2 separate regions of the Homo sapiens genome follow, and region 2 is linked to region 1. A link means that fine-mapping ties the variant in region 1 to the expression of a gene that starts in the linked region. Tissue or cell type: lymphoblastoid cells. Region 1 holds a variant in brackets; the other region holds the start of a gene. All regions are shown on one strand. Distances are between the middles of the regions.

Region 1 (8,264 bases):
GTGATACATGTCTGGCCACTTTTATTTTCTTAGTGAGGTTTGGGGAAAAGTGCCCCCAGAGGTAAGTGGAAGAAAGCAGGATGTGTTTTGGGTACAAATAGTCACCTTGAAACTGGAAAGGCTAGATTTCTAGAGAAAAATGGTAGGATTGTTAGACATCTTTTGAGACTGATGATCATGAATGCTATGTGAAACCAATGAACTTCATTCTTTGGTTTTCTCTTGCAATGTCCAATTGTTCAGAAGGTAGAGAAGAAATAATTCTCCTCTCATTCTCTTTGACAATGGAATTTGGCCTTGAGAGGAAGACAGATGTTTAAGTCCTCAGAGAATGAGGTGTGACCAGCAGACTGAGGATTGAGGGCAGAAAGGAAAGAGGGTACCGGTAGCAAGGAAGTATACATTCTGAAGGGGCAGGAGGGACGCGGAATGAGATCTGGCACCTCCTCCACTTCCTGAACCTGAAGTATGTGAGGTGTGAGCAAATAAAGAGCCTCTAATCATGAGACTTGGAAGTCAAGTGGCGGACCCAGGCGCTGCCAGGTCCTCATTAGGGCAATGAGATGGAGTTCAGAGAAGAGGTCATGCCATCTTCAATCCCCATTGGTGCAAGGCAAAGTCTGTTCCACTATACAAGGTCAAGCCTGCGTGGTTAGAGCTTCTCTTATTCCCACTCCTCCATTCCCTAATTTTAGTGCAGGGGGAGGATTTTCAAAAATTTTCAGACTAAAAACAACGATTGAGCAAGCTAATTAAGTGGTATGAGTGGTTTCAACAAAACCCCACACTTAGCGGCCAACATGGATTAAGGTGGAGGCTGCTTTTAGGTAATCCACATTGTTTTTCAAGCATCCCCTCCAGCAGTCAGGCTCAAAACACATGTTAAAGTTTTGTTTTAAGTACTCTTGGTTCAAAACACCTTTATAGACATTATCAGAAAAAGAGAAGTTGTCCAACTAACCCCAAGTTTGCTATGCCCTTTTAAATCTGATCCTCATCCTTACATATCGCAGATACTCCAAAGCTTTTCATAGCAAGTGTCCAAGACCAGGGATAGCACTGTCATAATAGTTAACATATGTTGAGTGACGACTGTGTCCCAGGCATTGTTCTAGGCAACGTTCCTATATAATTCTATTTAATGTTCAGAAAACCTTTATGAGTTTTTACCCATTTTTCAAGCTGGGAAAATGAGACAATGAAGAGTCAAGTGACTTGTCCAATGTCACCAGCTATAAGGGGCAGCGATAAGACCATCTGCAGTTTGCACTTGTAAGCATTTGGCTATACTGCTGTAGACTGCAAATATGCAGCACTCATACATTTACTCTCCTTTCCTCATCCAGAGCAGACACCACTGGCCATTTACACAACAATCCTACCAAGCTTAATCACTAATCCATTGATCTGTGAATTCCTACAAGTTGATGAGTGTGAGCACTAGAATGGAAATCTCTTTGCAGTTCCCTAGACCCTCCTTCTTTGCTTTCTGTTCTGCCTCAAACCTTGTCTCTGCTCTACTCCAAAGACTGATTCTACTCTCACTCTGGGCCTCCACACTTGATGTCCTGGTCTCTTCCCAAGTTTGACTCAGGCTAAGATTTAGCCCCAGGCCCCTCTTGCCCTTTTCCTGGTTCACTCGTCATCACATGCCTATCATGAGCTGGCTCTGTGATTCAGTCAGTGTTGATTTGTATCTGAGATGCAGAGATAATGTAGTAGCAATAGGCAGGACAGAAAAGCAAGCCTCCATAACAAACTCATTTGAAGAATCCTAAGCTTTGCACCATCAATACAAATTTCTGTGTGAAAACCATAAAGACAGAACTAACTTTACATGTTGAATCCATCGAGTCAAGTAAACTTTTAAAAGAAAATTTTAAAAAGAAAGAAAAAGAACTTTAGATGTGGTGTCAAATTCAAAAGATCTTATAGTTGGAGATATACCACTGAATGATTCTGTCAACGTCCTTTAAAATGGCAAAAAAAAAAAAAAAAGCCACCTCAATTTTAATCAACTGAATCATGAACACAAGGAAATTTTTTAATTTTGGAGGAATACTTACTATTTGTTGGGCATCAAAGATGCTAGATGGAGGGTTGAAAAGCTATAGGTTCTAACTAGCTGTGCAATACTGGAAAATCACAGTCTTTCTGAGCTATAGTTGGTCTGTGAAATGTAGTGGTTAAATTTAGGGCCTCTCAGTCCTCTTGCAGTCCCAAAGTTCTGGGTCAATGCAGTTTTTATTTCAGAAGCTCTTGTCCTTATCTGCTTTGTCTTCGAGGAGTCACTAGAGGTGCCCCAAATGGACTTGCAAGGGTCCTGTTCATTTCCACAGGTGGGAACCACGTAGAATCCTATGTTACTTTCCTTCTCTGCTCTGCCCACTATTTTGCCCACTGCTGTTCCCTGTGGGGTGCCTGGAGAGCTGGTTTTGTGGGGTCTAAAGTCTATTACCCATCATTACCACCACAGCCATTGGGCATTATGGGACATTAACATCCTCAGGATGCCAAAGCTCTTTTAGGGATTGTACGCTGTAGTGTTGGAACCTGAAGCAGGGTTGCCAAGCTCTGCCAAAGACCATTTGCTCAGAGGCACATTTGAGATGCTGTGACAACTTTCAGGGGCACCACTGAAATTCTTGATGACTTGTCAGTCTCTTCTCTATTTCCGCCCAGAACACCACGGGCTGCCTAAACACCCAAGTCCCACAAAATATAGGACTGGTCTAATGTGTCCCTGGAAACTATTGAGACAAACCCATTATCTGAGAAGCCAGGACGAGTTATAATTAGAAGCCTGATGAGTCAGAGCTCATGGGCACTAGCTCAGAAGCCCTCACTCATAAGATGACACATCAGCTTGACGTCCGCTGGAGCTCATCCTGGGCGTCAGAATTCAGCCTCGTACAAGGATGGAAGGAATCGGCTGGAGAGGTGGGAGAGTCGCTGAGCACAAGGACAGGCCTGCTGGGCCCAGCCTCTCGCCAGGAACACAGAGCATCTCACACAGGAAGCCCAGGCAAACTGATACAAAATTTCACTAGAAAAAAAAAAATTCCTTTTACCACACACAATTTCTCTTTAATTTTTCTTAAGGTGCTGCAGTTGCTAATTTAAGCCTTTCACATAATTTCCCAATATTGACTTAAATTTATGATCTTTACCACACATCCTCCCCAGCCTGGTGGATTCAGAAAGAGTAAGGGGGTTAAAATCCTATCTCCATTACCTACTGGCTTTGTGACTATGATAAATCCTGTCAAATTTTCCAAACCTTAGTCCCCTTATTTATAAAATGGGTTTTTTATGAGGATGAAAAAATAATAATACATGCAAAGCACCTGGCATACGATCTGCACAATTCATGATCAATAAATGTCAGTTTCCTTCCTTCCTGGTAGAAGTCATCAGATGGTACTAACTCTAGGTTTTCTGTCTGACACAGAACACA[C/G]CCTTCAAAGTGCTAATGCTGTTCCAGCTCAGCAGACACCTCGTCTCGGGAAAGCCATTAGAAACCCCCAAAATACTACATTTTTCTCCTGGTAAGTAGCTCACTTCCCACAACCACTTTGCATAAAGTGAGCTCAACAAATGAGTCACGCTGCTTGCAGAAGCAAATTCGGGAACCACACCCAAAACAGAGGCATCTTGACTTTTCCCAAGAAGCTGTCATTATCACCAGAAAGAGGGTTTGGGGGACCTATAGTTAGAAAACCTCAAACTCCCAAGCTACCTCTGAATTCATGTGCAAACCTAAGAGCTCATTTTTTTTTCAAGGATTTTTTTTTTTATCCACAGCATTCAGTGACAGCTGAGAGTCACTGGCCATTTATGATTATTTACTTTTTGAAAACTTCTATCATAGCATTTAAATTATAATTATGATTTTCAAGAAAAATTTCAAGAATTTATTCATTGCATAAAAATAGACACAATTTCATTTAGACCAACCCTTTCTGACCTGCAGGCTGCAGGATAAAGTAGACAGTGCATGGGATTATAGTCAGAAGACCAGGATCCAAGTGATGGTTTTGCCACTTACTGAATGATTTAGGGCAAGCTTCTGAGACTCAGAGGTTTATCCATAAAGTGGAAAGAACTATATATATTGTATGATTCAGAAATAATGAAATATATGAAAGTACATGGAAAACTTAATGCAATACAAAACGTTAGATTTTTTTAAAAAGTAATCTTTAATCCTTTATATTTACCCAATAGTCCTGGTACTAATTTTTTTGAATTAATTTTGTTGGCTCATTTCTGCATCCTTCTAAATTAATGTATATATTTTAAAGCTATTGGCTTTCAAAATGAATGGAAAACTCTGCATTCATGATTGATTGGCTAGAATAAAGACTGTTAAATAGTTTTGAATGATTATATGTCTAAAAATTTTGTTTTCCAATGTGAGATACCTTGTTTGCCAAAATGTCCACATTGTTCCCTTCTCAGTACAGAGCTCTTTTTAATGCTACTGTGCAACTCTTCCCCATTCTTTGAATCTGGGCTGGTTTGTGACCTGCTTAGGCCACTATAATGGCACAAAATTGACGCTGTGACAGTTCTGAGTCTTGGCATCAAGGGGCTGTGCACTTCCAATCTTACTCTCAGAATCTTGCCAATGCCACATGGATGAGTCTGGGCTAGCTTCTGGTTGATGAGAAACATATAACCTCATTACCAGAGACTTTAAACCCACTCAATAAATAGCTAATAGCCATACATGTGAGTGAGGCCATCTCAGATCAGGCAGCACCAGGTTGACCTATCAGCTGAGCACAAACACATGACTGAGCCCAGCCAAGATCAACTGGGTCAGACCCTAAGAATCAGCACCATCCCCTCATTTGTGAGTAATGATTGTTTAAGCTACTATATATTTTTTTTTAACACAGCAACAGATTGACTGATATACAAGGTTTCTATATCATTAAAAAATGAACTCCTCATAACATGCCAGACTAAGGTAACAGAAATGGGGTCCCTCCCTTTATAAACCTAAAGAAATGCTGGCTGAAATACATGGCCAAGTTCAAGAGACATAAAGGAAATCTCCAACGGCAAAATAAAGAGAACTCAAACATACTATATGGCAGTAAGCAAAAGCGGATATTGTCGCCTGTGGGCACATAACTTTGCACATGGTTATAGGCATTAGTGACTGGGGGACAAAGTTTTTTTTATTGTTATTATACTTTAAGTTCTGGGTTACATGTGCAGAACGTGCAGTTTTGTTACATAGGTATACACGTGCCATGGTGGTTTGCTGCACTCATCAACCCATCACCTACGTTAGGTATTTCTCCTAATGTTAAACCTCCCCTACCCCCCCACGCCCCACAGGCCCCTGTATGTGATGTCCCCCTCCCTGTGTCCATGTGTTCTCATTGTTCAACTCCCACTTATGAGTGAGAACACGCAGTGTTTGGTTTTCTGATCTTGTGATAATTTGCTGAGAATGATGGTTTCCAGCTGCATCCATGTCCTTGCAAAGGACATGAACTCACCCTTTTTTATGGCTGCATAGTATTCCATGGTGCATATGTGCCACATTTTCTTAATCCAGTCTATTATTGATGGACATTTAGGTTGGTTCCAAGTCTTTGCTATTGTGAATAGTGCCACAATGAACGTACGTGTGCATGTGTCTTTACAGTAGCATGATTTATAACCCTTTGGGTATATGCCCAGTAATGGAAGTGCTGGGTCAAATGGTATTTCTAGTTCTAGATCCATGAGGTATCGCCACTCTGTCTTCCACAATGGCTGAACTAATTTACACTCCCACCAACAGTGTAAAAGCATTCCTATTTTTCCACAACCTCTCCAGCATCTGCTGTTGCCTGACTTTTTAATGATCGCCATTCTAACTGGTGTGAGATTGTATGTCATTGTGGTTTTGATTTGCATTTCTCTAATGACTATTGAGGATGAGCATTTTTTCATATGCCTGTTGGCTGCATAAATGTCTTCTTTTGAGAAGTGTCTGTTCATATCCTTTGCCCATTTTTTGATGGGGTTGTTTGCGTTTTTCTTGTAACTTTGTTTTTAGTTCTTTGTAGATTCTGGATATTAGACCTTTGTCAGATGGATAGATTGCAAAAATTTTCTCCCACTCTGTAGGTTGCCTGTTCACTCTGATGATAGTTTCTTTTGCTGTGCAGAAGCTCTTTAGTTTAATCATTTATCAATTTTGGCTTTTGTTGCCATTGCTTTCAGTGTTTTAGACATAAAGTCTTTGCCCATGCCTATGTCCTGAATGATATTGCCCAGGTTTTCTTCCAGGATTTTTATGGTCCTAGGTCTTATGTTTAAGTCTTTGATCCATCTTGAATTGATTTTTGTATAAGGTGTAAGGAAGGGGTCCAGTTTCAGTTTTCTGCATATGGCTAGCCAGTTTTCCCAACACCATTTATTAAATAGGGAATCTTTTCCCCATTGCTTGCGTGTCTTAGGTTTGTCAAAGATCAGATGGTCGTAGATGTGTGGTGTTATTTCTGAGGTCTCCGTTCTGTTCCATTGGTCTATATAGCTGTTTTGGCACCAGTACCATGCTGTTTTGGCACCAGTACCATGCTGTTTTGATTATTGTAGCCTTGTAGTAATGTTTGAAGTCAGATAGCGTGATGCCTCCAGCTTTGTTCTTCTTGCCCAGGATTGTCTTGGCTATGCAGGCTCTTTTTTTGTTCCATATGAAGTTTAAAGTAGTTTTTTCCAATTCTGTGAAGAAAGTCAGTGGTAGCTTGATGGGGATAGCATTGAATCTATAAATTACTTTGGGCAGTAATGCCATTTTCATGATACTGATTTTTCTATCCATGAGTATGGAATGCAAGAACAAACAAACAAAACCTTTCTAATGTCAAAGCATTTTCCCTTTCATATCTTTCTTTAATGGTATATTTGCAGCTGTTTCCTGTTAATCCTTTGTCTGTCTGACTTCCTTCTTTAGGGTGATGGGATCCTTAAGACAAGCACAGAGTATGTCCTGCTGTGGTGTCCTGCAGGACAGGCCACACTCTGGCCCATTAACGGTGTTTGATGTGACGATGCACATGAGCCCATGGAGGTCTGTGCCTCAGGCCCCGTGGGTGTTTGCAGGTTGAAGATGGAATGATACACGCCATCTCTGAGATTTTTATTTGCTCAGACCTTCCCCTGTTCTGGCCCAAACCCACTTAATTCTGTCTAATAAGTGGTGGTGGGTTTTGGGGGGCCTAGTTTGTTTGTGTCCTCTCTTATTTCCTTGAGCATTGGTTTGTAGTTCTCCTTGAAGAGGTCCTTCACATCCCTTGTAAGTTGTATTCCTAGGTATTTTATTCTCTTAGTAGCAATTTTGAATGGGAGTTCACTCATGATTTTGTTCTCTGTTTGTCTGTTATTGGTATATAGGAATGCTTGTGATTTTTGCACATTGATTTTGTATCTTGAGACTTTGCTGAAGTTGCTTCTCAGCTTAAGGAGATTTTGGGCTGAGACGATGGGGTTTCCTAAGTATACAATCATGTCATCTGCAAACAGAGACAATCTGACTTCCTCTCTTCCTATTTGAATACGCTTTATTGCTTTCTCTTGCCTGATTTCCCTGGCCAGAACTTCCAATACTATGTTGAATAGGAGTGGTGAGAGAGGGCATCATTGTCTTGTGCCAGTTTTCAAAGGGAATGCTTCCAGTTTTTGCCCATTCAGTATGATATTGGCTGTGGGTTTGTCATAAATAGCTCTTATTATGTCGAGATACGTTCCTTCGATACCTAGTTTATTGAGAGTTTTCAGCATGAAAGGCTGTTGAATTTTGTCGAAGGCCTTTTCTGCATCTATTGAGATAATCATGTGGTTTTTGTCATTGGTTCTATTTATGTGATGGATTATATTTATTGATTTGCGTTATGTCGAGCCAGCCTTGCATCCCAGGGATGAAGCCAACTTGATTGTGGTGAATAAGCTTTTTGATGTGCTGCTGGATTCGGTTTGCCAGTATTTTATTGAGGATTTTCGCATTGATGTTCATCAGGGATATTGGCCTAAAATTCTTTTCTTGTTGTGCCTCTACCAGGCTTTGGTATCAGAATGATGCTGGCCTCACAAAATGAGTAAAGGAGGATTCCCTCTTTTTCAATTGATTGGAATAGTTTCAGAAGGAATGGTACCAGCTCCTCTTTGTACCTCTGGTAGAATTCAGCTGTGAATCTGTCTGGTCCTGGACGTTTTTTGGTTGGTAGGCTATTAATTATTGCCTTAATTTCAGAACCTGT
Region 2 (8,000 bases), 110 kb before region 1:
CGAAACCTCACTTGGGTGGCCACATGTCACCTAGAGCCACACACTGGGTTTCAGTTCAAGACCCATGTCAGCCTCCTACCCAGGGTCGCACAACCTACTAATGAGCATGTGAGGAGTGGGTCTCTGGGTCTGTGCATGTGAAATGCTTGCCTGGTCAGAGTGAGAGCTCCTGTAATGCTGCTTTCCTAATATTCAGGCAGAGGGCATTGCCCTAACTTGTCCTGTAGACAAGCAACCACCTCTCTCTTTATTCCAAGCCTGTAAATCAGAGCATATCTGGGAGGGCAGCTGGACTCTGATAAGGGATGTGATTTATTTTAGTTACAAATAACTTGGTTGGCATCTCTGATATCTGTGGCCAAACCTGGGGAGAGACAGGCCAGGGCAGGGCAGCCAAGAGTCCACAGCCTGCCGGGGATGGAGAGAGAAGCCACCCATGCAAGAGTTCACTTATGCTGGCCACAGGGGACAGGTAGTGTGGGAGAGCCACGTATAGCTTCCAAAGTCCTCCAGACACGTAATGAATTGAAGGAGCATAAGCATTGGAGTCTAACATGGGAGGATGTTAGATAATGCGGAAATCCCAACTCCACCACTGGATCCTGGGGCAAGTCATGCCATCTCCACAAGTCTCGATCTCTTTATCTAGAAAATGGAGTTAAAGAGAGTGCTAGGTGTATTGGGCTGTTGGGAGGCTTAGATAAGATATCCTGTGCTACCCCCGGCTTCACATCTAGTATAGAGTCAGTGCTCACTGAGCAGTATTTCCTAGAGACTCAGGACTTAGGACCCTGCTTTACACAGGACCATATGGTACCACAGCAGAGCATCAGGTTTTTAAAACTTTGGTGCTCCTGACCATCTAGCGATGTTCCAGGAGGTGCTAGAAGCCCCAGGACAATACAGAGAATCATTGTCGAACACCAACATTGCTATATGGTCAAAAATATATATCATTATTATTGTATTAAACTCAAATTGGGTATATTGTAGAGTAATATATAAAACTGTAATGAGTCTGTAAGGTAGTATTTAAGGTGTGAAACAAATGTTGTTACCCCAGTAGACCACACCCTCCCCACCCACTGCAGGGGGTGGGGTTGAGGCTCCCACAGTCCTCATGATAGAGATACATGAGAGAAATGCCCTGCCCTAATATCTTAACAAGTCGCAGAGAGGGGAAGTCACTAGTCCCTCTCTTTCAGATTTTCTAAATGATCCTTAGAGTTCCCATCTCTGAGTCTATGACAATGAGTCAGGAAATAGTTCCTGAATGAATGGAAGGGAATCTGTCATGAACTAAGAATTTCATGCTGTCCAGCATCCCCTCCTTTGTGGGGAAATTTGGGAAAAAACAAATGGAACATTTTCCTACTGGCTGCCAGCCTCCCACACAAGGACTTGTCACCATGCCTTTGCAGCAAGTAGATGTCCAATGTGTAAATGGGGAATACCTGAATTAGTTGATGCTAGCCCCAACAGAGATGAAGCTTTGCCTCTTTGCTCCTTCACATGGGAAAACACAGCTAAAGTTCTAACTCCCAGCAGGGGGCGGAGTCTCTAATGCTCAATTAGAGAGAAGGGAGCAGAAAGGTGTGTGCCAGCCCTAAGACCCAGGGCTCTCAGACGCTCTCCTCTTTCTCAACACCAGGCATGCAATTCCCAAGCAAAGATCCCCTCACCCAGTCTATCATTGTTGGACATTTGGGTTGGTTCCAAGTCTTTGCTATTGTGAATAATGCCACAATAAACATACATGTGCATGTGTCTTTATAGCAGCATGATTTGTAGTCCTTTGGGTATATACCCAGTAATGGGATGGCTGGGTCAAATGGTATTTCTAGTTCTAGATCCCTGAGGAATCGCCACACTGACTTCCACAATGGTTGAACCCTAAAACTTAAAGTATAATAATAATTAAAAAAAAAGATCCCCTCACCCACAGAGACAAGGAGATGCATGTGCATGAAGGACTCATCCCCCCTGGCCTCCACCAAGGGCCACTTTCTTCCTCCTGCACAAGACCCCGAATTCAAGATATCTGTTCCCCAACTCAGAGTTTCTGGGTCCAATGTCACTTAACTACATTTGGCCATTTCTCCACTTTTTGCTTTCCCATACAAAGACTGGACTCCTCCTCAAAGCCTTGCTCCTTTCCAAAGTTTCCTCGTGGTTGTCCAGAGTCCACCACTCCCCAGAATGGGGCAACAAGAGCTCCTTTCCTTCCCCTTTCCTCCTTCTCCCCTTCGCCACCCACACCATGCCCAGCCCCAAGCCCTCTGACAAAGTCATGTCTCCTTTCCAAGTCCCAGTTCCTGCCAAACAACTTTACAAGCACATGAAAGCGAGGGCCGGGGCAGTTATTGCTACTGGCACTTCATTGTACTTCCTCTAAATGATGCTGCGCAAAGGGGCCGTGGAAACACGGGGCAGGAGGGAGACTGCGGGTCTCTGGGAGAACCTCAAGGGTTAGGACAGTGCCAAATATTTGGAAGTGGGGCCTTTTAGAAGGAACGGGGAGACAGGTTGGAAGGAGTCAGGAGTCAGAATGCCCAAAGACAAAGCAGAAGATGGCACTGGTAGGTAACATACAAATAAACTTCCCTAGAGACTATAGGGAAACCACCAGGGCCCTCTTCTTTCAGGCCAGGCCCAGGGCTCTCCCTGATCTCCAGCTTGACTCTTCTCTCCCATCCTGAATGTTTCCACTTTTCAAGGGCTTATTTGAGCTCCAGTCCCTTTTGGAACTTTCCCTAAGGCCTAGAGTCCACCAAAATCCTTCCCTCCCTGAAATCCTTCCAAGTTCGTCCATCTTATACAGTCTAACATATTCTAAGCCTAGGCTTTGGAGCTCAGTGGAGCTGGGTTTCCATCCAGCACTGCTCCTGGCTATGTGAATGCCAGCAAGTCACTTAACGTCTCTAAGCATCAGTTTTCCTCCTGTCAAACAGGCCTGATAACAGGAAGCTTCTTACTAGGCCATTGTGAGGGTAGAATGAGATAACACATGGAAAATATTTAACATAATGCCTGGCACAGTGAAAATATACAGTAAATGGTAGCTAGCACTGTATTCATTTTTTTTTTTTTAACAGAGTCACGCTTTGTCACCCAGGCTGGAGTGCAATGGCATAATCTTGGTTCACTGCAACCTTCACCTCCTAGGTTCAAGCAATTCTCCTGCCTCAGCGTCCCAAGCAGCTGGGACTACAGGTGTGCACCACCACACCCTGCTAATTTTTGTATTTTTTGTAAAGATGGGGTTTCACCATGTTGGCCAAGGCTGGTCTCAAACTCCTGACCTTGGGTAATTTGCTGCCTCAGCCTCCCAAAGTCCTAGGATTACAGGCATGGGCCACCATGACAGGCTGTGTTGTTGCTATCATTATTATTATTATTTCAGCTTCAGTAGTATAAATCCTAGATCCCCAAATCCCCACCTAGCAAAGACCTCTCACTCACACAGAAAGGGAGATGCATATGCACAGAGAACTCATCCTGCCTAGCCTCCACCTAGGGTCACTTTCTTCCTACTGCAGAAAGTAGGAAGATAGAGAAAGCAGAAAGTAATTCAAGATACTTTATACTGGGTACTCAATCTAAACTACCTGGGTGAGACTGTGTGTTTCAATTTCTCAGTACTCCCGTGGAACTGGGTTAATAAATATTTGCTGAGTAGAATTTACTGCATGCAGGCTGAGCTGTCTTAATGACCCAGCTGGCACTTCTTAAAAGAAAGATTAATTTTGGCCAGCGATAAGCAAATCGGCCATGTAATTATCTGTACATACATAGACAAAGAAAGAGAATGCTTGGAGTTGAGCCGTGCTAGAATATACCTTACACGCAGCCCCTCCCCTCCATAGCCACCACAAAGCACTGACCCTGTTTGGATGAGATATTGGAGCCCTAGCTCCAGGGTCCCTGATGTTGCCCTGGTATCAAGGCTCTTCTCTCTGCTCTGAGGCTGCCAGGCAGGGAATATAAGCCACCTTACTGTTGAGATTTCCCCACACTGATTGGCAGAAGCAGGAGGTGGTGAGGACCAAGCAGCTGGTCCAGTGGTTGCCTCTCATATTCATGCTCCCTATCCCAGGCTGGAATCTCATGGAGACCCAAGACCTCACCGCAGAGCTGGTTCAAGCTTCCACAGCGCTAAGGTGGCAGTGACACTGCGGACTGTAAGCTTTGGAACAAGGCTCAGTGGGGAGCTGGGAGAACCCAGGACCCCTTTCTGGAAAACCCATTGCCAGCTAGTCTCACACTTGGAATTGTGATCCCTTCTGTGACCACCTTGATAACAGCCACTCGCCCTGTTCCAGCCCCAGTCTCTGCCCCGCCCAGCTCTGCCCTGCCTAGACACAGCCCGGTGGGGCTTGGCGAGCCCTTGGGCACAGGAGCCTGTTAGTCCAGACAACGACTGTGCGCATCCGGGAGAACGGTTACTTTCTGCCATGTGCTGCAGCTCTAGCGACCTCGCCCAAAACTGCGCGCCGGCAGCCTGCCCAACAAACTTTCTTCTCTTTCTCTTTTTCTTTCAACCAAATGGTGCTTCCACAGACACATTCTCCAACGGTTTAGCGCAAATCCCAGCCCTGCTTTCCGGAGCCCAATGCACTTCGCAGACAGCTCACTTGACTCCAGTCCCCCAGGGCCGACTCAGCCGGAGGGGCTGCCGCCGGGTCCGCGCTGAGCACCCCGCACCCATCTTGCTGCCCAGGCTGCGGCGGGCACTCACCGATCTGCGCCAGGCTCAGCGGCACGAGGCAGAGTCCCCAGGCTGCGTGCCACCAAAACTTGTCCATGGTGTCCGGAGCGAACGGAGGGCGCGGGCGAAAGGAGCTGGAGGATCCCTGGGCGCGGGGCAGGGGCCGGCGGAGGACGGGACGAGGATGGCGGACCGAACCTGGCAGAGGCTGGGGTCCGCTGGGCAATGAGGCTGCCTCGGAAGTTGGCTGCAGTTTTTATTCGAGGTTGAAAACAGTGACCTAAGACGGAGGGAGGGAGCGAGCGAAGGACACACCCAAGCAAGGGGGGCTGTGACTAAGCAGCCCGCAGAGGTTTTAAGAAGTAGCAGCCCTCCCGGGCGGGCCCCTCTGCCCCCGCCCCGTGCTCTGCTGAGGCTGTAAATAATCGGGGCTGCCAGGGACGTGGGTCGGGGAACCTGGAGTGTCGCGGGGTGCCTGTGCCTCCGAGCCCCACTGGCCCCTGCGCCCAGAGACGCACTGGCTTTCTTCTCCCGCTGGCCCCGCGGCGTCAGGACAGAGGATGACCGAACCGTAAAACCTTGCACCATTGGGTTCAGCCTTTGGCCTCTCCTTTCCCGCTAAATTTCTCTGAATCCGGCTGGAGCAAGATCTCTGGGTTTCACAGGATGTTGGATATCCTGGGAGAGGAGCTGGAGAGAGGGCGAGGTCTTGCCCTGGGTGGCGCAGTGCCTCCGTGCCCACAGTGGGGAGTGAGGGGTGGGGAGTTGGTGAATCTTCCAAGTGGAAAGAGGGAGAGCTCATTCTTTTTCCCCTCAATAACAAGTCCACATGGCTTGAATGAATTTTAGCTTCTTGGCAGAACAGCTCAGGGAAAGCTACTGATGGCCTGTCATAGGGCTGGCATTTGGCTCAGCTAACCCATGTGTTCAAGCCAGTGTGAATGGGCACCTCTCTCCACACACATGCTCATTCATCCTCCTAAATATCCTTCCATCCGCCCATCCATCTATCCACCCATCTTTCCTTATGTCCTTCTGGGGCTCTCACATCCATCCATCCTCCTGTCCATCCACTAACCACTTAGGTCCATCTATCATCCCACTCATTCATTCATCCAACCACACACCTTTTAATTTATTCAACCACCTATTCTTCTATTCATCTTCCCATACAACTTCTCATCCATCATTCCACACTTCCTTTTTCACATCTCTTCATAAAACCACAACCATCCACCATCCTCTTCTCCACCCATCCACCCACATATCTGTTTATTGATATATCCACTCATTTCCCATCTGTCCAAGATCAACATATCCACCTATCATTTTATCCATTCTCTCATCCACCCATACGTTCATCTATTATTTTTGCCCCCATTATCCTCCTTTCTGTGTAAACATTAATTCATTTTCTCCCATCTTTCCTACCCAGCAGATCTTAAAGAGAGGAAGAGTTTGTAATATTCTTCAGGGGAAGCCTTTTGAGATTGAAATATCATACTTTGAATGATAACTCTATATCTATCTATAATATACTATGGTTTAATGTTTGGAAATCAAACGCAGTATTTATTTGTCATGTGAACTACTAAAAGTAAATCTGCATGGACTTCTTGCCTGGTGAGTTACACAGAAAATGAAAGTGATTATCAGTGGCTGTGGCAAGATGAAAGGAACCATGCCAGGACTTCTGAGGGAAGGTAAGATTTTGTTATTTATTTCAAGAAATTGAAAAGTTGAGAGAAATGCACCCAGCCATCCCCCTATGCATTCATTCATCAGACATGTAATGAGTGTTGTGGGGTATCGAGGTAAATAAGACCTGGCGCTATCTTCAGAGCCCTCACCCTCTGGTACGGAATAAAACTCACAAGCAGGCCATTACCATGCAAGGTGAAATATGCTGCAAAATGTGTGTGTTTGGGGTGCTACCATTCCTAGAGAAGGGAGTCACACTCTCTCCTGGAGAACACCAGGCAGTCTTCACAGGGGAAGTGATATTTGAGGCAGGCCTCAAAGGAAAAGGAGGAGGAATTCTTCAGATGAAACTACAGGGACAAGTAAGTCATCCACAGGCAGTACAGTGTAGTGACGAACAGCATGGATTCAGGAGCTAGAACACCTAGATCCAAACCCTATTATGGCTGCTTCTTAGTTGTGTGACCTTGCCTAAGGCAATTAGCTCAATTTGCTCAAGTATAAAATGGGCTTAATAATAGTATCTATTATTACTATTACAATTCTATTACTTCATAGAATTGGTGAGGATTAAATGACTCAAAAGCCCTGCATGTATTAAGCCGTAGATTTATGTCTACATATGCATGCAGTAAGCACTTTAAATAAGTGTTTGCTATCATTACTAAAAGCAAAATTGTGTTTGAGCATAGAAAAGTGAAAGAACATGGCTTGTCCAGAGAATAGAGAGCAATGTGAGCTGATCTGAACATAGATCAGATGAAGGGGCTGGGGGAAGATAGCAGACATGAGGTTACAGGTATGGGGACTACAAGGTGTAAGCTATGCCAGGGAGTTTGAACTTGACCCTGTAGGAAATAAGGAGGCAACGTACTTAGTTAAAATTATTATCATTGTTATGTTAAAATATGCATAACATAAAATTTACCATTTCACCCATTTAAAAGTGTTTATAGCAGTGACGTGTAGTACTTTAACAATATTGTGCAACCACTACCACTGTCTAGTCCGGTATAAATTTTTCAGTTGTGGAGATTCTGTTTGACTAAAGACTACTCCTCTTGCATTTTCAGGAAGAGTGTTTGGGACTGAAAAATCCTTGTCTGGATCTAGTCCTCAGCCACTCAGAAGCTGGCATGCCATGACTCAAAGAGCCGCCCGTCTGGAATGAAGACAGTGACCCGTAACTCCCACCTGAAGAGCAGGTGCTTGGAAAATGCTGCCAGTCCGCAGGAAAAAGTTGTTACTGCTGCTGTCTGTGACCAAGAGGACACTTTATTTCTTGAAACAACTGGGGGCAAACTGGCTCCCAGATAAGGCTTCAGTCCCTACTCATGTGAGGAAACCAGCCCTGGTAGGTTCCATGCACAAGAATACAGGACAAGGAGCAGCTTTTTTCACCTCATGCAACCTCCAGGGATTTCAGCTTCCTTTTCTTGGAGCAAGAAAGTGAAGTGACGTGGGGAGTCACTAGGAACAATGTCTGTCTTACTGTGTTTCATGGAACCTGGAGGTTCCTTAGAGACCCCTCAGAAGCAGACCTAGTGGTCAGAGTAAAAGCTGAGGAGTAAGCTGTGCCTCTCCCTCCCCA

Alleles and levels. Positions count from the first base shown, and alleles are read on the strand shown. Sizes are in standard deviations (SD) of each study's normalised expression.
With allele G in place of C in region 1, the expression in lymphoblastoid cells of the gene that starts at base 4,938 in region 2 is higher (moderate effect, 0.58 SD a copy in TwinsUK).

Evidence for each region. PIP is the estimated chance that this variant, and not a neighbour inherited with it, causes the effect.
Region 2: CD44 starts here. The variant in region 1 is fine-mapped to the expression of CD44 in lymphoblastoid cells (TwinsUK, PIP 0.95).

Annotation. Positions count from the first base shown.
Region 1 is chr11:35,025,453-35,033,716 of GRCh38, reverse strand. LOC105376626 (a long non-coding RNA gene) reads left to right here. Exons shown (of 4, transcript XR_001748180.2): 3 at 3,452-3,548. Among named protein-coding and RNA genes, the nearest start is that of MIR1343, 88 kb to the right of the region's middle. RefSeq lists enhancers at 3,423-3,542, 2,505-3,704. The variant C/G (reference allele first, on the strand shown) is at 3,458.
Region 2 is chr11:35,136,109-35,144,108 of GRCh38, reverse strand. CD44 (CD44 molecule (IN blood group)) reads right to left here and starts at 4,938. Exons shown (of 18, transcript NM_000610.4): 1 at 4,739-4,938. The coding sequence starts at 4,805. CD44-DT (CD44 divergent transcript) reads left to right here and starts at 6,077. Exons shown (of 3, transcript NR_120528.1): 1 at 6,077-6,411; 2 at 7,483-7,763. RefSeq lists enhancers at 3,541-4,041, 5,209-5,773 and a silencer at 5,229-5,298.